Linked DNA regions of Homo sapiens. The protein of the gene in region 2 interacts with the protein of the main gene of each other region in a biochemical or structural test. Each region holds a gene or a part of one and is shown on either strand. Other genes may lie near its edges.

The links. Proteins that work in one complex are often made in the same cells at the same time.
Region 1: of the proteins of MAP3K14 (region 2) and CHUK, one has a biochemical effect on the other in vitro, tested with the Homo sapiens proteins (5 studies listed by BioGRID and IntAct, with this or other methods).
Region 3: of the proteins of MAP3K14 (region 2) and IKBKB, one has a biochemical effect on the other in vitro, tested with the Homo sapiens proteins (3 studies listed by BioGRID and IntAct, with this or other methods).

Annotation. Positions count from the first base shown.
Region 1 is NC_000010.11:100,198,152-100,205,809, forward strand, and holds part of CHUK (inhibitor of nuclear factor kappa-B kinase subunit alpha), read right to left. Parts: intron 7,049-7,658; coding exon 6,925-7,048; intron 6,507-6,924; coding exon 6,355-6,506; intron 3,999-6,354; coding exon 3,937-3,998; intron 2,630-3,936; coding exon 2,520-2,629; intron 1,870-2,519; coding exon 1,820-1,869; intron 1,018-1,819; coding exon of another isoform or gene 950-1,017; exon of another isoform or gene 1-949.
Region 2 is NC_000017.11:45,306,922-45,314,579, forward strand, and holds part of MAP3K14 (mitogen-activated protein kinase kinase kinase 14), read right to left. Parts: intron 5,517-7,658; exon of another isoform or gene 5,364-5,516; intron 1-5,363.
Region 3 is NC_000008.11:42,316,089-42,323,746, reverse strand, and holds part of IKBKB (inhibitor of nuclear factor kappa-B kinase subunit beta), read right to left. Parts: intron 7,538-7,658; coding exon 7,408-7,537; intron 7,038-7,407; coding exon 6,843-7,037; intron 6,091-6,842; coding exon 5,976-6,090; intron 5,196-5,975; coding exon 5,072-5,195; intron 4,478-5,071; coding exon 4,326-4,477; intron 4,163-4,325; coding exon 4,101-4,162; intron 3,013-4,100; coding exon 2,903-3,012; intron 1,852-2,902; coding exon 1,802-1,851; intron 1,694-1,801; coding exon 1,594-1,693; intron 1,401-1,593; coding exon 1,253-1,400; intron 1-1,252.

The DNA of each region.
Region 1 (7,658 bases), on a different chromosome or scaffold from region 2:
CAAATCTGAATAATCATAGTTTGCCTGACAGTTGCTCTTCCAAGTAAAAATGGTATCTTCCCTGAAAGAGGCCAGACAACTAGCAACGTAAACAATTACTGAAGTGGTTTTCCTTAAGACAACCATCATACTTCACTGTATAGAAGAAACACTTTATGAGTACTTCCCATTTCATCACACAAAATATTAAAAACCCATACTCAAGCGTTGAGATTTAAATAAAATAATATTTTTACTGCTTTATCAAGGACATTTGTAAGTGAAACTGTCATTTTTTAAAAACTGTGACTGCATGGTGGTAAAAAATATAACGGCTACTAGCATAGTTTGGCGCTAGTGCCTTGATTCATACTAAGGTGAAAGCCATTTTATGTTGCACCATCAATGAAAATGTCAACATGGTGAAAAATGCAAATAACATCTTATTATGAAAATGGTTCTAACCTCACAGACTCTCTGACAAAGTTTCAAGGATTCTCACAGGTCCATATGCCACATTTTGAGAACTGCTGGTCAGACTAAACTGAATACATTTCAGTAAAATAAAAGCAGTATAAGAGGAGATAATGTTATTTTTTAAATGTGAAAATAGTATATGAAATACAATTTCACATGTATATTAATTTGCATGTGTTGCTATGTGTCTACAAATTTTAAAGTGTAAAAGTATATCTTTTTTTAACATGCATTTAAGTATAATGCACATTAGGGCACAGACTTTATTTCTTCTGTTACCCTTCAAAACAAATTTTTAACTAAATGATAATATCTTGCAAGTACATAATAGTTTATAGTTTTCAAAGCATTTTCACAAACATCCTCTTAAATACACTGTCACAATATACTCACTGAGTAGGAAAGCTAGGTTTCAACCCCATTTTGCAGAAGAAGGAAATGGGAAACGCAGATTTGCCTGAGGTAACGGTCAGTAAATTACTCAATCTAGAATTCAAGCCTCTGATTCCCCATCCAGTACTCTTTCCAGCAGACCTTGCTCAGTATTTAGCAGATGTTCAACTGGAATTATTTTGCCAACAAAACAAGTCATCAGTGACCAGTGCAGATGAAGGCATTATTTTCAAAGCAATCTGCTTTGGCCTAGAACAGCACAGGCCTTCCCTCTAACCATTCCATACCTGAACCCACTGCCTCAAATTCTTTCCAACCTCTATAATATTTTTTTGTTTTGTTTTGAGACAGAATCTCGCTCTGTCACCCAGGCTGGAGTGCAGTGGTGTGATCTTGGCTCACTGCAACCTCCTCTTCCCAGGTTCAAGCGATTCTCCTGCCTCATCCTCCCAAGTAGCTGGGATTACAGGCACATGCCAACATGCCCAGCTAACTTTTCTATTTTTAGTAGAGATGGGGTTTCACCATGTTGGCCAAGCTGGTTTTGAACTCCTGACCTCAGGTGATCCACCCACCTTGGCCTCCCAAAGTGCTGGGATTACAGGCATGAGCCACCACAACTGGCCCAACCTCTCTAATCTTAAGCAACACTTATTTTTTCCATCTTTCTAAACATTTTCTTGCTGCTTTTTCCTCTCTGAGTTCCTTTTTTCTGTCTTCCATTCTTTCTTTTCACGTCCCCTTCTAAAATTTTTCTACCTCACGTTCTCTGTTACTTTCTCTTTATCATCTCCTAAATTCTCACAATCTTAAAGCTTATTATACCATGTCTCAATGGCAATACCAAAACTGGAATTTATTCTGCAGCTTTAAGAAAATTTTTAACTTAAAAATATTAGATCCCCCACATTTGTTAGGCTAGTGATAGTTACCTAAAATGCCTTCAAGCACTGTGGTAGAAGTGTCTTACCTGAAGGTCTGTGTTTTAACTGCTTATATAGATCAATGGCACGCTGTTCCCTATAAAAGAGAAAACACGCTCTGATAAGTGAAGGTAATTTAATGACTTCAATAATCTACAACTTGAAACAATATTTTATTTGAATAATGAACCCATTTTAAAGCAAGTTCATATTGCCAACAAGTATTTCACAGAGCATTGTATTGAGTAATAAGAACTATACAAGTTCTTAAAATGCAAAGTTTAATATAGTTCATATCTATTCTGATCTATCATGGGGACATCTCTGCACCACAGACACTTAAAAAGACAAAAATTATGACCTATAATTCGAGAAAATATCTGAAGTTTTTAATCCAGAACTTTAATTCAGAAAAAATTTCAAGTTTTAGGGCATTTAAGAGTCAATACCTTGGACCAGAGGTATAATGAGTAGGGAAATAGTTTGTAACTTAGTTATACTTGGAAAATTCTTAACACTCCTATGAAATAAATGCTTTTATTAAAAACCAAAAAAGGCCAACCCAAAGAATTATTTCCGAAGTTTCCTGTGACTGAGAAAAAGCTTCCATTTTAAATATAATGCCAATATATTTGGGGAAAGGAAAACTATAGAAAAGAACCACTAGAGGTTTAATTTGCCAGATGTAAGCAGAAAGAATACAAAATATTACAGATGTCAAGACCAACAACACAAGTGCATCCTTACAGAGATTCCATCAAGTCTCCCTGACGTCTTCCATAGGGGCTCTTCTGTAGCTCCATGATTTCAGCATGCAAAGACATAATCTGATCCTCCAGGTATCCAATGACACCAACCTAAAATATGATGAAAATACAAAGGAAATGAAAGGCTTACCACTACATCATAGGAAACAAAATTCAGATCTTAAGGATACAGAATGACTTGCTGCTTCATTAGAGAACTAAATAATATAATACGAAACACTGATTTTGTTAAAGCCTTTCTATTCTTCAGATTCTGACACTTAATCTTTCACATAAGAACATACTTAGTCTTAGTCTTCTCTCTTTTCTCTCCTGACAACAGTAAACTACTAGTATTTGCTTTTACCTCCGGAGAAGCAAAAAGCTACAACAGGTATCAACTAACAAGAAAGAAAAAGGACCACCAAAACCATTGGTATTACTTGTATCTTGGCTCTATGATTTTGACTGCCCCCTGGTCCCCACTACCTTGAATAGGGACACAAAAAGATAAAGAACTTGGATTTCCCACCCCAGGACACCATGGGTATCCCCACCCACATCCTCAGGGTAAGTACTGACATTAAGGAGTGTAATAACTTAGGACCGTGGACAAATGTACAGGATAAGGGGAAAAAATCTGCCACCTAGAGAATGAGCTATACCTAGGGACACCATATAATTTATTGTCCAAACCGGCATAATTTTGAGAGTGAAAGGGACTACTACTGATAATTATGGCAAGACATTAAGTATAAACTGGGACAGTCCCAGGTAAACCAGGATGTGCAGCCATCCTATCTAAACCAGTCACAAAAATAATAGTGACAACTACCATTACTGACTCCCATTTAATCTTCATAACCCTACTAGAAAAGAAATTGTCCCTATAATATGGAAACTAGCTGGATGTGGTGGCTCATGCCTATAATCCCAGCTCTATGGGAGGCTGAGGTGGGAGGATTGCTTAAGCCCAGGAGTTTGATACAAGCCTGGACAACATAGTGAGACCCCGTCTCTACAAAAAATGTAAAAGTTAGCCAGGCATGGTGGTGCACCTCTTGTCCCAGCTACACAGGAGGCTAAGATGGGAGGACTGCTTGAGCCTGGGAAGTCGAGGCTGCAGTGAGCTTTGATCATGCCACTACACTCCAACCTGGGCAACAGAGTGAGACCCTGTTTCAAAAAATAAATAAATAAAGGAAACTGAAGCTCAGTGAGGCACTAGGTAATTTTCCCAAAGCCCTTGTTTTTAATCACTATGATACATCCCTCTTTATATACAAAGCATCTACTAGAATTTTGTCTGAATTTCAGGAATGACATGAAAAATGCTCTTTATATATCAAAACCAAAGATAGTTTCTAATGGAGACATCAAGAATTAATAAGTATACAGAATGACGTCAATGATTTTACCTCAGCATAGTGGATGGCCTTTTCTTCCATTTCTTTCCATGCTTTTAGCATTTTTTCTGAAGCTAAAAGAAAAGTCTAAATTGGTTATCTCAGAAATAGCCATATCTTTAATTACTGGCTGCCTGCCTCCTTGCCATATCAACATCAAAGATGTGTTATGAGTTGAATTGTGGTCCCCCAAAAGATATGTGGAATTCCTAACCCCTAATACCTCAGAATGTGACCTATTTGGAAATAAGGTCATTACAGAAGTAATCAGATAAATTAATACTCATACTGGAATGGTCTGGGCCCTTAGTCCAGTACGACCAGTGTACTTAGAAGAGACACAGGATACAGATACACAGGGGAGAATGCTCTGTGACAATGGAGACAGATTGAGGTGCTGCAGCTGTAAGCCAAGGAATGCCAATGATGGCTAGCAGACCATAAGAAGCTAGAGAGAAACAAGGAAAGATTCTTCTCTACAGATTTCAGAGAAAACATGGCCCTGCCAACACCTCAATTTTGGACTTTTAGCCTCCAGGGCTGTGAGACAGTAAGTTTCCATTGCTTAAGCCACTCAGTTTATGGGATTTTGTTATGGAACCCTTAGGAAATGAATACAGATGACTTTTTTCTTAAAAATATATATATTTATACCAGTGTGCAGATGGGTGGATAAAGGAAAAAACAACAAAAAAAATTTTTTTTTGAGGTAGAGTCTCACTCTGTCACCCAGGCTGGAGTGCAGTGGCATGATCTCAGCTCACCGCAACCTCTATCTCCAGGGCTCAAGCGATCCTCCCACCTTAGCCTCCTGAATAGCTGAGGTGTGCACCACCATGCCCGGCTAATTTTTACATTTTTTGTAGAGATGGCGTTCTACCCCATGTTGCCCAGGTTAGTCTTGAATTCCTGAGCTCAAGGGATCCACCTGCTTTGGCCTCCCAAAGTGTTGGGATTACAGGCGTGAGTCACCACCTGGCCAGAAAAGAAATTTAATACTTGAATATGATTTTTAAAAATTAAATACTATAAAAGGATATAAACAGAAAAGACTCTCTCTTCTACCCCTCTACCATCCACCTCAAGGGACCTTACTATGATTATCTGTTACATAGACACATAGCCTGCTCCCTCACAAGTGAAAACATCTGTATACTCTTTATTTTTTCCCACAATTTAAAACTGTCAACTAAAGACTTAGGTGATCTTTTAATAAAAGCACATATAGATCTACCTCATTTTTCTTTAACAATTGTATAATAAGCCTTTGACAAGTCTAAGATATTTTAATGAAATAATTATAATGTTTTATCACTCACCAGAATGTCAATAATATACAAATAGAAATAAAATATCAATAATATATAAATAGAAATAAAATATCAATAATATTAATAAAACCAGTTCTGGAGAGTAAATTCATTCACCCAACTGGACACTATTGATTGTTTACTCTGAGATACACAGAGTTTGCTCAGGACAAGTATATGTTTTTAGGAAACAAGTATTTGTTTCCTAAAAAGGATTTGTTTTATAAAAGAAAACAGAAATGCTGGTAGTATGACTCCTTCAATTTACTCATATTTTAACTCTGTTTTTTTACACTTCCTTAGTACATCTGAAGGAGATAAGCTTGGAGTCAAATATGGAAAATTTGGAGACTGTGTACACTAAAAAATAGTAGGACTCCACAGTAGATGGTTTGAAAAAAACATAGCCTTAGAATATTTGTGTCATTATTTACAGAAAAGTAAGCAGTTTAAGACTCCCCTGGTTGTCTTAGTCCATTTGGACTACTATAACAAAATACCATAGACTAAGTGCCATAAAAACAACAGAAATTTATTTCTTATAGTTCTGGAGGCTGGGAAGTCCAAGAACAAGGCAGATTTGAGGGCCTGCTTTCTGGTTCCTAGATGACCATCTTCTTGCTCTGTCCTCACATGCAGAAGGGATGAGGGATCTCATTCAGGTCTCTTTTGTAAGAGCATTAATCCCAAACAGGAAGGCTCTACTCTCATGACCTAATCACTTCCCAAAGGCTCCACCTACCAACACCTTCACCTTCAGGGTCAGAATTTCAACATATGTATTTTGGGGGGGATACATTCAGTCCACAGCACTGGCTAAGAAGTCCAGATTTTGTATTTATTTTAAAATCAGGTTTGAAATTCAAGATTATTAAATCGCACCTGTATTTTTTTAGAGCTAAATAATTTTAGCCCAATTGTGAAGCTAAATTGCTCAACTAAGCAAATTTAAAAAAAGAGGTAACATTCAAAACAAACATGGTTTATGTTAATTTAAGTTGTCCTGTCTCTTGTTCTAATGTGAAGGTAAGTAAAACAACTGGCTGAGTTAAGAAGGCAAAATAACAGATGGCTTCAAGAAACCAGATGCTCCTTTCAAATACATTACACAGACACTTACATATCCCATACGTCATCTGCTCGCTGTATCTCTCCAAGTCAAGCTGAATGCTTTTGTGAAAAAACTCCAATTTAGCTTTCAGTTGTTGTGATGCTGAGATCAAAGTGTTCTTCATTTTTGTTAAGTTAGCATTATATCTAAGAAGACTTAACCTAAACCACAGCAAGAAAAAAAAGAAAAAGAAAAAAGATATTATCAGCATTCAGAAACATTGAACAATAATGTAAAAACATAAACTGCCACAAGGCCAAAGCCTAAGTTTCTATTATCAATCTATGAGAAATAACTGAGCTCTAGAATCTGATCTCTAAAGACTTCCTGCCTATAATATTTTGTGATAAACAATCTTTTTATACTAGGACCGTATGGGAATTATTACCCTCAAGCCATTACAATAGAATGGTCTCAGTCCATTAGTAAGAATTCTACAAGTTTATCAGAACATTACACTTCAAATTGGCCCAGTATGTTACTATTACATGCAATATTGATTAGTGAAAACCGGCAAGATTAATTCTTGAGTATATGATGCACATTGCATTGTGCTTATAAACAACAGAATCCACTTACATTGCTGCCCTTTGTCCCTGAAAGAGCCTGCTATAGTCTTCTTTTAGTCCAGACACATAGTGCACTGCTTCAGCCCACACTTTACGCAGCTGTATAATTGGAAGCTGTATTTTGCTGTCCTGTACTATATACAAGAAGATGAGAAAAAGGGCAAGGGAGGTTAGTTACTTTTGAGGATTTTAGAGTTGATTTATCATTCTTTGTGATTTCCTGTCCACACAAACAGGATTCCCATAGATGCTAGAAACTGATGCTAAAAGAACCACTTGTTTCCATTTAATTCAGTTCAATATACATTTACAGAGCACCTGCAATACTTAAGCCCCGCTCCACATACAAGGGGGGAAATAAAAATGACACAATCGCTACACTCACAGAGCTTGAGATTATTCCTGTATCTGTCTTTTTTGCTTGCTTTTCTGCAACCTGGAATACTCTTTTTCTCTCTGCTAATCCAAATTATTTCTTTCAAGTTCTAAATCAAGTCCCATCTCCTCTGAGTCTTTCCTACCTCTGAATAATAAATTTCATATTCTGGACCAACAATCCAGGTTTAAGAATACACACAAGAGCCAGGTGTGATGGCTCACGCCTGTAATCCCAGCACTTTGGGAAGCCAAGGCGGGCAGATCCCTTGAGGTCAGGAGTTCAAGAGCAGCCTGGCCAACACGGTGAAACCCTGTCTCTACTAAAAATGCAAAAATTAGCTGGGCGTGGTGGTGTGCACCTATAAT
Region 2 (7,658 bases):
TTATACAATAAGCAACAAGGAATGTTTAATGTATATTGTATAAAAAATTTTTCAGGCCGGGAGTGGTGGCTCACACCTGTAATCCTAGCACATTGGGAGGCCCAGGCGGGCGGACTGCCTGAGGTTGTGAGATCGAGACCAGCCTGGCCAACATGGCAAAACGCTGCCTCCACTAGAAATACAAAAATTAGCTGGGTGTGGTGGTGGGTGCCTGTAATCCCAGCTACTCGGGAGGCTGAGGCACAAGAATCGCTTGAACCCGGGAGGTGGAGGTTGCAGTGAGCCGAGATTGTGCCACTGCACTCCAACCTAGGCAACAGAGTGAGACTCTGTCTCAAAAAATTAAAAAAAAAAATTAATTAATTAATTAATTAAAAAAATTTCAAGTGTCATCGAAATCAGCAACTTAGGGTATTTTGTGTAACTGAATATTCTGATTAAGTGGGGGCTGCCCTGTATGCCACTTAACATGACCAATTTCCAAAGATTAGATGGCCATAATTGCCCTTGACACTAAAATCATGTGAAACACAGCCAGTTTCTTTGATGACTCAAAACGTACTTTGTGATCTTGCCAAGCTTTGAGATCATCGTTACAAGCAGCATTTTGGTTGTGAAAAACAACTCTCCTTATTTAACCTTTTGGGGTGGATTCTGAGCAAGAAGTTCCCTAGGCTACGGTCAATCTCGCTGAAATACAACCACCCACCGCTCCTTTCTGGGTTTAGAAATCTGGTTTTCAGAGGTGGGAGTGGCTTCAAGCAGCGTCTACCTGTGTTCAGAAAAGATGAAGAAAGACAGGCTCAGGCTCCCTGTATAGGAGAATTCAAGTTCATTGTAGTCACTGGTGACTGGTTCTGAAATTGAGGAACTAGTTTGAGGAACTTCAGAATAAACAAGAAACCCAAAGAACTCAGCTTCCACAGAAGGCTTCCAATGCATGGAAGGAGGCACAGGTCCAGCTCCGCCCTGTGGCGGGGCAACCTTGACCCTGGCCTCATTTCAGATGCTGCCCCACATGCTCTTTGACAAGCTGGACCAAGTAACCAGCTTGAGGACATGAGTGGCAGAGGGGTCCCTTTATAATGAGGGGTCATATTCTTGTCCTCCCTTGGGAAGGTAAAAAAGGGCTTGGGACATGGGGCATGATGAGGAATATTCTCAGAGGATCTCACACGATTCTTTGGTAAAAGAGGGTAAATCATGAAACAGCCCACGGCTCTCTCGTCCTCCCCGAGGCCAGCAGGGCTTAGCGGGAGGAGTTTGGATTCAAGTCTTGTACTTTCACTCAACAGCAAATATTTAATCAGTGGCTACCATGTTTCAGGCACCGTGCTGGCCAGCAGGAATATGAGGATGACCAAGAGCCTTCTCTGTTGAAACCCTTGAAAGGCCTTCTTGGAATGCTGAACCCAGTTACCTAGAAGCACTGCCTTGATCTACCTGCCTACAACTCTCTAGTGGCACCAAGCCTATGGGATGTGCCAGTGTGGTCACTGCCCTCCCAATTCTCACTTGGAGGGGTGGGAGGTGGTCAGTTATGTGTTTATTAGCTGGCTACTCACTGTCTGATTCTACTTTGAACTATATTTTCTTTTTTGAGAAGAGGACTTGTTCTGTCACCCAGGCTGGAATGCAGTGGTACAACCATAGCTTACTACAGCCTCGAACTCCTGAGCTCAAGTGATCATCCCACCTCAGCCTCTGAAGTAGCTGGACTACAGGTAAGCACCACCATGCCCAGCTAATCTTTTTTTTTTTTTTTTGACAGAGTCTTGCTCTGTCGCCCAGGCTGGGGTGCAGTGGTGCGATCATGGCTCATTGCAACCTCTGCCTCCCAGGTTCAAGTGATTCTTGTGCCTCAGCCTCCCGAGTAGCTGGGATTACAAGTGCCCACCAACACACCTGGCTAATTTTTGTATTTTTAGTAGAGACGGGTCTCACCATGTTGGCCAGGCTGGTCTTGACCTCCTGGCCTCAAGTGGTCTGCCTGTCTTGGCCTCCCGAAGTGCTGGGATTACAGGTGTGAGCCACTGCGCCTGGCAATGTCCAGCTAGTTTAAAAAAATTTTTTTTTTGGAGGTGGATCTCACTATGTTGTCCAGGCTGGTCTCCAGTTCTTGGCCTAAAAGGCAATCCTCCTGCCTTAGCCTCCCAAGTCATTGGGATTACAGGCATGAGCCACTGTGCCCAAGCAACATTTGAGCAAATTTCTCCTGACTGTCCCTACGCTTCTGAAAATGCACTTCTTTCCCCCAGAGTGCTGAAGTTGCCCAACTGTTACCAAGCTCCCGCTCCAAGCTGACAAGTGGTACAAGACCCCAGGGTGAGAGAAATACCAAGGTGTTCCCACCCAGGCACCTGCAGAATCCGAGACGCTCTACGCCTGACAGTGCTGGCTCAGGCTGGAAAAGGAGGGCCACTGGGCTGCGCATGGTGGCCTCCTCGCTCCCTCCAGCTCCTATAGTCATGGCTCCTGACCAGCACCGGGGTTGACCTGTGAGATGTCTGCCTTCGTGCCCAGCTTACCCCTGTCTTGGTGAGGTCCTCCAGGGCGGTGCCTCAATTGTGTTTGGTTTTCTAGCACCTAGCAGACATGGCCCATTTGACACACTTGGCAAATGTTCCTGAGTGAAAGGACAGACACACTTCTGAGGAATAAATGAGTGCCACAGGCTCTGAGAGCCTGGCTGGACAGGGACACGTGTCCACACTGTCCAATCACCTGGCAGGCTGGAAGGGAGGGAGTCACAACTTGGTGGCTGTATTCTAACTGCACCCCAGCAAGCAGGTGTCCTGAAAGATGGCTGTGGAGCCTCTCCTGCCATCCCCTTTCCTAAATGCTGACCTAGAGACCCAATTACTTCTAATTGCTTGAGAAGATAACCCTTCTGAACTGGACAACACCCATCTGGGCTCGGATTTGCATATATTTGCAAGTATCTAATACATGCTAGAGGGAGGTGGTGCAGGACTCTGTCCTTCACATTGATCTATACAAAGCTATTCCTGCCTCTCCAGGCACAGCATCTGCCAGTGGAGACTGTTGGGCAGGACTCAAGGAGTCTGGTGGGTCCAATCAACTCCCTTGGCCAAAGGAGTCCATCTTTTTTTTTTTTTTTTTTTTTTTTGAGACGGAGTTTCGCTCTTGTCGCCCAGGCTGGAGTGCAATGGTGGATCTTGGCTCACTGCAACCTCCACCTCCCAGGTTCAAGTGATTCTCCTACCCCAGCCTCCCGAGTAGCTGGGATTACAGGCATGTGCCACCATGCCCAGCTAACTTTTTTGTATTTTTAGTAGAGATGGGGTTTCACCATGTTGGCCAGGATGGTCTCAATCTCTTGACCTTGTGATCCGCCCGCCTCAGCCTCCCAAAGCACTGGGATTACAGGCACGAGCCACCGTGCCCAGCCTCCATTTATAATCTTAACTGGCAACCACATCCTCATTGGAGGCTGGCTAAGCCTCCTTTTCCTCCCAACCCTCCTGGCTATCCCTAGTATGGACCAGAAACACCTACCTTTTAATTCTGGCCCAGTAAAAGGAAACTTTAATGTCAGTAGAAGGTGGGTGGTAGATTTTGGCTACAATAATTCTTTGCACTTACAGGGGCCACCATCCAGATATGACATCATGACATCATGCTTCACCCACAAGGAAGAGCCTCTCACTGAGAGGAGCCAGGCAGATCAGCTAGGATAACACCCAGAGTATGCATGCACCTCCTGCACAGAAGAAAGATGCAGAAGAGCTTCGTGCACTGTGGGTTTGGACCCCTGTAATCAATCATTGAAAGTTACTAAATACCCACTCTAGGTGAGATACTGCTTGGCTAGGTAGGAAAGTGCCCTAAAGGTGTGGGCAACCTTTGAGACTTCCTGGTAATTGTATTTTCTTATCAACCTTGACCTCCTTTTGATTACATGAACCTCATGGTATAAGACAGCGTCCAACAAATAGCTTTCTGTTTACTTTTTCTTAGACCCAGGGCAGCAGCTGCTGTGGCTCCACCCTTCCCAGGCCTGGCAGAGCTTGCAGAAAGGCTGAGAGTGATAGGGTTGTGGTAGGGGAATAAAAGGAGAAGCTAGTTTAAAAAAAAAAATCCTGCTTCAGGATTAGTTCCTTCGTTCCCTGGCAGCAGAGTACAGTGAAGAGTCTGGGTTTTATAGTTCAGGCTCTGCCATTAACTAGCTGTGTGGCCTTGGGCAACCCACTTGGCTTTCTTGGGCCACCATTTTCTCTTCTGCATTTTCTCACTGCAAAAAATGTGAATGATCATGTCCAGGCTATAATCCTAACAGCTCTTTCTGGACAGTGAGGTTAAGGTTATTTAGCCATGCCAGCAGGAGGTGACTACTGGTTGGTCCAGACTGATGGGGTATGGGTACAGGGGCTGGGTTGGTAGTCTGCCAGAGACAGGGAACGAGATTATTTGCAAGAGCTGCAGCTTCATTAAAGTCAAGCCCTCCTTGTAGTTGGTCCTGGACATTGCTTATAGATGTCCCTGACCATAATCGGTCAAGTTCAACACCAACTGCACTAGTCCAGAACAGTGTCTGAAGAAAATCTCTGCGTTAATGGACACCTGATAGTGGCTTTAGCAGAAAGAGCGTCAGGAGAAGCTGTAGTAACCAGAACCTGGGAGGGAGGGATGGCTCAGGAGTACCCCCTGCTGCTTCTTTCTTGGTACAAATCCTGGTCCTAGAAGTGTAGACAACTGAGATGGTGGCAGGCTTGGGATTCCTAAAGCTTTCTGAAATCCAGGGTTTAATCTAGCCTTTACAATCGCTGGAGCTCTGCAGAGACTCCAACTCAGGTGGCTGAAAAGGAGGCAGGTGGAAAAGCGTTCCTAAAAGGTTTTTCACACCAAAATAGGGCTTGTCTCTCTGCTCTCTGCCAAGGGATTTCCCAGCTCCCCAGGGCCAAAGCTCCCCTCCTGCTTCTTTGCTGACTGTCACTGGAAGCAGGCCATTTTCCACCCTCAGGGTGGCTGGACTTAGGAGTCAGTGACACTGCTGATCTGGGCTCTGTGCCCCGTCCACGATCCCCCCTCCGCTGTCAGCCCACTGGCCCCAGAAGCCTCCTGTTTACCTCCTGCCCCCTGCCTCCATAGCCCTGGGGCTGGGATGAGGCTGATTTGTGGCAGAGGGCTCCTCACGAAGGTCTGCTCAGGACTTTCTCTGCAACTGTGCTGGGGAATAAATCGCCTGTCACCTACACCCCTGCATGGGTGACTCACCTTCCAGAGAAAGTGCTCTGCTCACCTAAGCAAAGCTGCTTGGAAAATGACTAAGGCACCTATCAAATGCACTCTGTGGGGCCAACCAGTTATGGAGCAAGGTCCAGGCACACTCTGCCTCTCACCTCCAGCCTGAAGTCAAGTGCAGAGCTGCCACGCCAGGCCTGCTGGTTTCATTTTCATCTGAACCGAGCTCCACATGAGGCTTGACATCCGGTGATCTATTTTTTCTAAAAACTAGCTTCACTTTAGAAATGACTCTTCGGCCATCAAGTCAGCTTCCCCAAGAGAAAACAAAATGTTATTTAAAGGGAACAGTAGCCTGGTGAGAGCCTATATTTTTGTTTTGTATTAAGGTGAAAAAAGACTTTAAAATATAACATGAAACTTTTTTTTTCCCTTGTGAGATTAAAACAAACGTTTTTCTTTCAAGAGATGGGGTCTCGCTATGTTGCCCATAGCTACTTGACCTCCTGGGCTCAAGTGATCCTCCCGCCTCAGCCTCTCAAGTAGCTGGGACTAAAGAAACACACGTCACCATTCCAGGCTTCTTGTGAGATTTAAAGGGGAATCTGCAAGTCCTTGACTGCAGATCGTGGGCCCCCAGACAGAGTCTCAGAGAGAAGCTGACAAAGACATCTTTACGAGGGGGAAAGGGTGGTGAGCTGGGGATGCCATGTGGTAGTGGGAACCTCATCCCACAGAACCAAATGTTCCCTCCTGTTCCCCCAAAGAACAAGTCCTTGCTGATCTACATGCCATACAGTATTTTCCCTTTCCTCACCTCCAGGATTAATGCAGGAACCTACTTGATCACGTGTGGGACACAGGAAGCCCCTAGACAGGCCTAGCTGTGTCTCCAGCTCAGAGTTAGGATTGTCAACTGGGCAGAGCCTGGACCTTTGTAGCCTCATTTGGAGTATGGTGAGGGCAGTATATAGTGTAAGACAGGGAGAACCCGAGAGCTGAAGCTTTTAGACTGAAGGACTGTCCCCCTAAAGGTCCTACTGAGAAAATGACTCTGGCCTGTCAGGCAGTCTGACCCTTCTTGACATCATCTTACAGAAAACAGGTTTAGTCACAATGCAGTAATTGGCAACTACTACTGCTACTATTACTACTACTACTACTACTACTATTACTACCACCACCAAACACCACCAACAAGAACAACAACAACAACAACAACAGTTACAGCCTCTATGTTCTGTGCTGGGCACTGGGCTCAGCACTTTACATATCTCCTCTCATTTTCTACTCAAAACAGCCCCATGAAGTATTTCTGATCCCATTCACAGATGAGGCACCTGATGATTAGAGAAGTGAAGTGATTTGCTTGCGGGCACACAGGCAGGCCGTGGCAGACCTCGACCTGACCCAGGTCTCTCTGACCTGACAGCCTCAGCCACCACATGTGACACGGAGACACCAAGGACTTGTTCTGTTGCTCTGGACAAATCACGGGCTCTCTGCCTTTGTTTCTACATCTGGAAAATGGGCACAAGCACACCTGTCCAGGCAGCAGGCTATTCATCTTTTGGCCTTTTATTAATTAAAAATCAATATCAATTAATAATTGATTGGTACAATAAATAAATAAAGCTGCTACCCTGGTTTCGTTATGTTCAAAATTGACATGTTTGGGGGAAGAAAATCCTTATCGTTTCATGAGCAAGGTAGTAGAAAAAGCAGTGACCTAGATATCAAGAAAAGGGGGTTTAGATTCTGAGCAATCCTGTCTGTTTCTCCTTATGAGGCTTCACTTTTCTGATCTTTGTCCCTGCCCTTCTTCACATGAGTATGGTGTGAAAATACAAAGACTGGCCATAAAATTATTCTTGATGCCACATAATTTCAAGGGATTTCTATCAGGGAGCTGAGGGATTAAGACATGTAGAAAAGCAAGAAGGGAAGAGGCTCCTTTAAACTAGAATACAAAGAGCACACCGGCCACTGAAGAAAAATGACTTTTTCTGCATTGTCATTCAGGCAGTCATAAGCCCAGAACAAAAAAATCTCATACTTCAATGTCCTGCTCAGCTCAACAGAAATGCTCCCCTACAATTTGCCCTACGTCTGGCCTTCCCTTTTTGGGCTACTACTTTCAGCATTTTAGCCAGCATCACCGAGTAAATGCAAAACCTTCACACATGCATCACTTTGAATGCCCACCCAGCTCTTGCAGATGCTCAGCCCCATTCTGTTCCCTTACTAGGGAATCCTGGTGTGTGGAGACCAGAGGGGCTGACATCCTTAGAGCTCCCTAAATCCACTGACATGGAATTGTCCCCGGCCCACCAATTTCACACTGGTGCCATCAATAGTGCCCATAATGCTCAGATGTTTCCAGTTTAACTGAAATACTAAAATGGGGCAAACAGGAAGCATCAGACACAACTGTGGTAGTGACTTATTAATCA
Region 3 (7,658 bases), on a different chromosome or scaffold from region 2:
CTTACAGGAGGATGTGTCAATCACGCTCCCAAGGCATGCTCAGTGCTCTGGCATGCGACCCCAGCCCCTCTGTTCTCTGCACTGTGTGTGGATTGTCCCCTCTGCCTTTGACAATGAGAATCTCCTAATGCACCATCTCCTGCTTCCACCATGAGCAACCATCTCCCTCTCTCCTTCCCTTTGCTCTTAAGGGAAACTGACACCTAAATCACTCTTTCATCCATGTCACCTTCTCTGCAGCCTTTCACAATGGGGCTTGCAGTCCCAACAGCTCTGGCTCCCACAACACGGCCAGGCCTGCCCGTCTCAGTTCTTGGCTGTTTTGTTTCCCATTTCCCCACCATGTGGCATCCCATGGACTCACAGCTACGTTAAGACGGTGTGCACAGAAAGCGTGGCTTACTGCACTGAGGGCAGTGCAGACGCAGACGATGGTCAACCAAGTTGCACTGCCGTGCATGACGGTGGGCTGAATTGGTGGCCCTAAGAAGGATATGCCCACATCCCAACTCCTGGAGCCTGTGAGTGTGACCGTACTTGGAGAAAGCGTCTTTAGAGAACCTGAGATGACATCACCCTGGACTACTTGGGTGGGACTCAAATCCAATGACAAGTGTTCTTGTAAGAGTCACCCAGATAAGGGACACAGGGGTCCCATGAAGACAGAGACAGAGACTGGAGTCACACACCAAAGAACGCCTGGAACCACCAGGAGCTGGAAGAAGCAAGGACAGTCCCTCCCCAAGAGCCCTCAGAGGGAGCTCAGCCCTGCTGACACGGGACTTTCAACTCCTGGGCTCTAGAGCTCAGATAACACGTTTGTTTTTGTTTTTAGTAGAGACAGCTCTGCTGCCCAGGTTGGAGTGCAGTGGCATGATCACAGCTCACTGCAGTCTTGAACTCCTGGGCTCAAGCAATCCTCCCACCTCAGCCTCCCCAAATTGCTGGCGTTACAGGCATGAGTCACCATGCCTAGCCCAAATTTCTGTTGTTTTAGCCCCTCAGTTTGTGCTAATCTTTACAGTAGCCACACGAAAGTAATACACAGATGAATGAAAACAATTAGCACAGGCCCTTCCTCTGACCTCCCCGCTTACACCAAGTCAAAGAACAGCGACGTGAAGCCCGAGCAGCAGCTGAGTGGGCTGCTGGTGGCTCTGTGGTGTCCCGTGTGGGATGGCGGCAGTGCACAGAGGTGGAAAGGCACAGGAGGCTGCTAGGCCAAGGGCCCGGGACCACAGCACTCACTCACACAAGCAATCTTCAGGAGATTCCAGAGCTCCTTCTGCCGCTTCTCCTGCAGCCGGACAACAGTCTTCTCATCCTCATTCATTAAGCTCACCACCTCTTCCACCTTGGGCAACAGTTCCAGCGCCTTCTGCTTGCAAACCACAGTTTTACTGCAAAGAATAAACATGGCAAACTAATGGCATTTGGGCTGGAGAAAGCAGAACCTGTGGCAGCTGTGCATCCAGTCAGCAGCTGCAGAAACTCTCTTCATGAGGTCCAGCGAATCAGAGAGGAGGGAGGAAGGTGACCTCATACCTGCATCTCCCAGTCCTTCCTCCAGAGCAGGAAGGTCGGGGCTCATACCTGAGCTGCGTATAGATCACTCGCACTTTCTTCTCGAAGCTCTGAATTGCCTGAAGCAGCAGCCGTACCATTTCCTGACTGTCACCCTCAGTTCGCTGGTCTGGAGAGAGGGAGGGTAGCATAGTTCCTCAAGGAAGCCAGCAGAGAGTAGTGATGCCCCATAAATGAGATAAGGAGAAGCCCAAGGCAGACACAGAACCCCACTTACCTCGAGGTTTTTCCCTTAGTCTCCTGTACAGCTCCCTTGCTTGCTCCTCTCTAAAATATACAAAGAAGTTCTGTCTAGACTTGAGGTCAAATATGGCTAATTTTTACATTTTTTTGGTAGAGGTAGAGTTTCACCATGTTGCCCAGGCTGGTCTCGAACTTCTGGGCTCACAAGCAATCTTCTTGCCTTGGCATCCCAAGGTGCTGGGATTACAGATGTGATCCACTGTGCCCAGCCAAAAACATTTTTTTTTTAAATTAGCTGAGCATGGTGGCATGCGCCTGTAGTCCCGGTTACTTGGGAGGCTGAGATGGGAGGACTGCATAAGCCTGGGAGGTCGAGGCTGCAGTGAGCTATGATTGTGCCACTGCACTCCAGCATTGGCAACAGGGCAAGACCCTGTCTCTTAAAAAAATAATACAAATACAAATAAAAGAACTAGAGGAGAATAAAGGGTTAATTAGAGAAAATACAGAATCAAAGTTCTGACATTTGGAGCTCCTGTCCTAAGAATCCTAGTGAGAGAATCAGGGAACACTGCTGAGCTCACGGTGACACAGCCCTCAAGCGGCCTGCCTGGTTCCCTCCATCTGTACGCCAGGAGCACATGTGATCTCCTTCAGGTAGGAGTGATCTGCCTAGACCCCTCCGCCCCTCATGGAGCCAATGCCAAATACCTGACAAAGACTCAAACGAATAGTTTCCAGGTCCAAACTCCTAAGCCTCATCAGGTTCTTCCTTCTCTGTTTTACTTTCTGCTCTGAGCTATGCCTGAGTCAGGGTGGGTGGAACAAATCAGGGGAGTCTGCTACAGGGGTAGAGGCTGCTTGCATTTTACAGCCTTTACAGATTATGGCCTGCGTCTCAAATGCATTATCTGAATTCATCCTTACAACTTCGTGACTTAAGACTGTTTTTCTTGTCACTGAACAGATTTGGAAACTGAAGCTCAGTGATGATTTGCTGGAAGTGACCCCACAGGGAAGCATGCTCTAGAGAATGGTCCCGCACAGCCACTGAGGGTGCCCTTGACACACACACCGAAGCTCCAGGGCTGTCTGTGTGTGCTGGGCACAGAGGGGCCCCCCAGCCAGTACTCACAGGTCGTCCAGCGTTCCCCCCTGCTTCCGGCCCATGGGGCTCCTCTGTAAGTCCACAATGTCGGTCTGCAGAGCCATCATCCGTTCTACCAGGAGTTTCACTTCGTTCTCCTAATGGAAAAGCTGTGCTAATGTCAACTGATGTGGTAGGCGCATGCTGAGATGCAAGATCTGCGGGGGAGCGAGACCAGGGGACCCGCCACATTCCCTGAGGACCCTCAATGGACTGGCTCAAAGGAATGTGGACTGTGGGGTCTGAATGGCTGCGCCTGCATCTAGGGTCCACCGCTTTCTAGCTGTGTGACCCCTTGGCAAGTTACTTACCCCCAGCTACAGTTTCCTTTTGCATAAAATAGGCTTCTAACAGGGCCATCTGAGGAGTCAAGTAAGATGAAGTACTTAAAGCCTCTGGCATGGTGCCTGGCATACAGAAGATGCCCAAGACACATTACTTTCTCTTCTCTTCATCTGTCTATCCTGATGCTACCCGGGCAGGGAGGCCCAGACTGTTTTATTTCACAGATTATGAGTCCCAAGATGGGGAGGAGCACTCAGCCCTTCTATGGTTAATATTCACCATTAAACACACATATACTCCATCAGTACTGATTCATAAAAATCGATACTAAGACACAGGTGAAGATCCTTGCCCAAGTACACAGGGGAAAACAGAGGATAAGTCCAGGAAAAAGCCCCGGAGCCTGACTTCAACCTTCAGTTTGTGTGAGGTTCATTAAGTCACATGTATTTCCTTTGCCTTCATAATTAACTTTTTTTGGTGACATCTGATTTACGCTGCCCTGAGACTTTCTGCCTAGACCTTTTATTTCCTATGGATTTAGCATCCCAACAAAATTAGTCAAAAACCTTCGACAAGAGGGAGTGTTGATCATCCATCCAATGCCCTTCCTAACAGGAAATGGTCTTGGCTTTTCCCCAAGGGAACCTAACCCTTGCTTCTTATTTAAACCTGGACCATCTCTGTCCATTCATGCAGCTCTTGCATCTGGCCACAGAGGGGCTCCCTTCACTGGCTACTCTCTTGGCCTCTTTTCAGCTGGTCCAGTTAAGCTCAAAGCATGGTGAGGAACACCTGATTTTTGACAGAGATCGACCCAGTGTTTGATGAGAAAGTGAAAAGTGGGAGCACAAAATCTCACCCCCTTGGTAAGTTCCGAAACCCAAAATGAGTCTCCTACCCGCCCACAGAGCTCCACAGCCTGCTCCATTTCCCTCCAGGCCAGCAGCAGTTTATCTGATGCTGAAAAAAAATTGAGAAGGAAAAACAAAACAAAACAAAATAAAAACACCACAAAACTGAAACAGAAATAAGCAACTCAATTATAATAGGACAAAAGAAACCTTAGAAAGAGAAAAAGAAAAAAAAATGGTGTCTTTAAACTCATTGCAAAGTGCACACTCACTGATCCCAAACTCGGTTTGCTCGCTGTACTTCTCCAGGTCAATCTGGATGCTGGTTTTGAAGAAATCCAACTTGGCCTTGAGCTGCTGAGACATGGAAGCCATGGAATTCTTCATTTTGGAGAGGCAGCTGTTGTTTCGGAGGAGATTCATCCTGCAGGGACCACAAGGAACAGTCTTGGAGCATCTCTGGGATCCAAATTCCATTTCCTGTACAATAACAAAACCCCCTCAAATGTCAAGGGAGGTCCCTGCTATAATTATTATCATCATCACTATTATTATAGCAGCCACTTATAACCCAAGGACAATTTCCTAGCCCTCAGCAATGCCTGAGGTTCTGCACTAAACTTGACATCAGGCAAAGGAAGACACAAAAGGCCAATAATGTTGGCAAACGAGTCACAATGAGGAAAGAGTCCGTAAGTCCCCAGCAGCACGGTCAGGGGAGTTTTGCTAATCCACATGGTAGTGAGCTCCTCTGGGTTCCCAAACCAGCCACAGCTTGGCCAGCCCAGCTTCAGTTCCACACTCCTCACCCTGTGCCAACCACACTCACCTCGCCAGGTCTAAAGGGGCCTCCGTCAGTCCAGCCCACCCAACCGCTTCCCGTCCATCCAAACCAGTGTCTTCCTTTTGTTGCTCATAACGGTTGCTTCTGGGTCCCTGCCTCAACCACCTCCCTGTGGCCAAAGCCACCAAGGAATTTTAAATAAATTAAGTTTAAAAAAAAAGCCTGGCACGCTACATGGCGGCTCGCTGTCCCTGCTGCAGCCGGTTGCAATCTTCCTTCAGGGTCTGGATGCTGTGCCAGACCTGGCCCCACACCTTCCTCAGCTGGAAGAAGGCGAGATTCCTCTTGGGCTCTTGAACTGGAGACAGAGACACAAGCAATTGTCAAAGAATAACCACAATAACTCTCCTACAATTAACCATATCCTGCCTTCGACACTACTGGCACTTTCACGTTTTGTACCTACTATAGGATCATGTAACTTTGGAGGGTGTTATGCCTGGTTACTGTCACATACATGTATTTGTACCAACAGCATGTACCAGTGGTCAATAAGTAGCTGTTGATTTGAAGGAACACTTTACGAACCATTGGACACATATGTATATAGGGCCATATATTTTCAACAGAATTTTTTTTTTTTTTTTGAGACAAGGTCTCGCTCTTGTCACCCAGGCTGGCATGCAGTGGGGGTGATCATGACTCACTGCAGCCTTGAACTCTCAGGCTCAAGTGATCCTTCTGCCTCAGCCTCCTGAATAGCTGGACTACAGGCATGCACCACCACATCTGGCTAATTTCTAAATTTTTAGTAGACTTGCGAGCTTACTATATTACCCAGGCTGGTCTTGAACTCCTGGGCTCAAGTGATCCTCCTGCCTCAGCCTCCCAAAGTGCTGGGATTACAGGTGTGAGCCACCACGCCCGTCCTAGGAGGTTGAAATTAACTAATGGTTTCCTGTACTCTCTCTTGCCTGGCTACTCCTTGCATGTCCTAAATAAGGAAGGCTGCCCTGAGGACTGGCGATATTAATTTCCTTTACGTGGCTCCCCCTTCCTTAGTCCAGTCTCCCTTCCCTGCCTTGTCCCACATATTATAACGGATTATTTAGAAAAACAAAACATAACAAATTCTTACGGATACAGCTGACACTTTCAGGTTGGGGCCGTGGGGAGATCTGAGTCTCATAGGTGATTTTACTGTTGTCAAAGAGAAAAACAAGATCCATGTCCAATGTGTGGCCCTCATTTAACTGCAAAGGGACAAGGACAAAATGAATCTTGTGGATCCAACCCTCTCTTTTCTAACTGATAATGAAGAAGTTCCACAGCTTTCCCCACTGTTCAGCAAGAGCATCATCTTCAGCCAGCAAGTAGGAAGCATCCATGAAGTGTTTAACGTTTCCAGCCACACTTACTGTCTGAACACACTCTTTATTTACAAACGTATTACATTCTATTTTACTCTCTGTCTTCCCTGGGAAGTTCAGAAATTCACTATATACTTCCCTATGCAATGATTATTTCTCATATGATAACTTTAGCTCCACAAGTCAGCTGAGAAGGTCTTTTTGAGCAGAGGTCATGTCTTACACAGCTATAGTTAACACAGGTGCCTAACCCAGTTCTGTACACAGAGGCCATCATAAATACTTTCAGTTGACTCAAGAAAGTGCAGCATCCTTTTTTTTTTTTTTTTTAGTACACTTGGAAGAGGGCCAAGCAGGCAACTTGAGAGATTCGAGTGTTATAGCATCATTTTTTGCAATAAAGGCAAGAGACCGGTCTTGGAGGGTTTGGAAGTAACAAGTCCAGCAAGGAGATTTGTGTTTCCTATCAGGCCACACAGAGGACACCATACTCCAACTTAAAAACCAGCCAGGTATCCGCACTGTGTGATTAACAGACTACATGACAAAGCAGAATTGAAATCTGAAAGTGTGTTGAGTTTCCCAGGAGGCACAGCCAAGGTAAACAGGATGGTGTGTACGAAGCCAGGGCTCACCTTGCCGTCTGAAATACACTGAGTGGCAGGCTTATCGGGGATCAACGCCAGGCCCGCTTCCTGCAGCAGCTCCTGGTCCTCCTCTGGGATGCCCGTGTCCTGTTGGATTCTGGCCTTCAAGCTCTGCAGACTCTCATCCTCTGTCACAGGGTAGGTGTGGATGGTGCCCGTGACCATGTTCAAGATATGAACCAGCTGCAACACAACCCAGATGTTACTGGAAAACCGATTTCTTCAAGGAAATGCCCATCTATTTGCCTAGGTCCTCTCTCTGCTACTCCCAACATTTCCCAACCACACAAAGCAAGGGCCTAGCTTGAGGGAGGGAGGTCATGTGCCATGTTTCGCATATTTGCATCTTTCATAATCCTGTCTGTGGCTATGACCTCATAGCCAATGTCAATTAGCACAACTGTCCTTTCTTTACTTATGCAGAAAGACTGATGCAGGAGCCTAAATTTCCTCACTAGGTCAGCTGGCCCCATCCCCTGCTCTGTCCTAAGAACTGCATGTTCCACTGGGGACCCCAGCTTTTGCCTCAGGGCTAACTTGGCTCCACACTCACCTTTAAGTTTAAGATGTCATCCAGGGCCTTGAAGCAGCCATTGGGCCCATACGTGGGATCCGTGCCCCTCTGTCGGGGGTGCCACATCAGCATCAGTTGCAGCCACTTCTCCAGTCGCTCAGCCAGGACACTGTGGAGAGGAGCATAGTGTGTGAGGAGACACTTCCAGCCAATGTTGGGCTACAGTGTGCGTCTCCCAGTATACACACAGACGGCAGCCAGTAGACGGTGATTGAAAATGAAAATGGGTT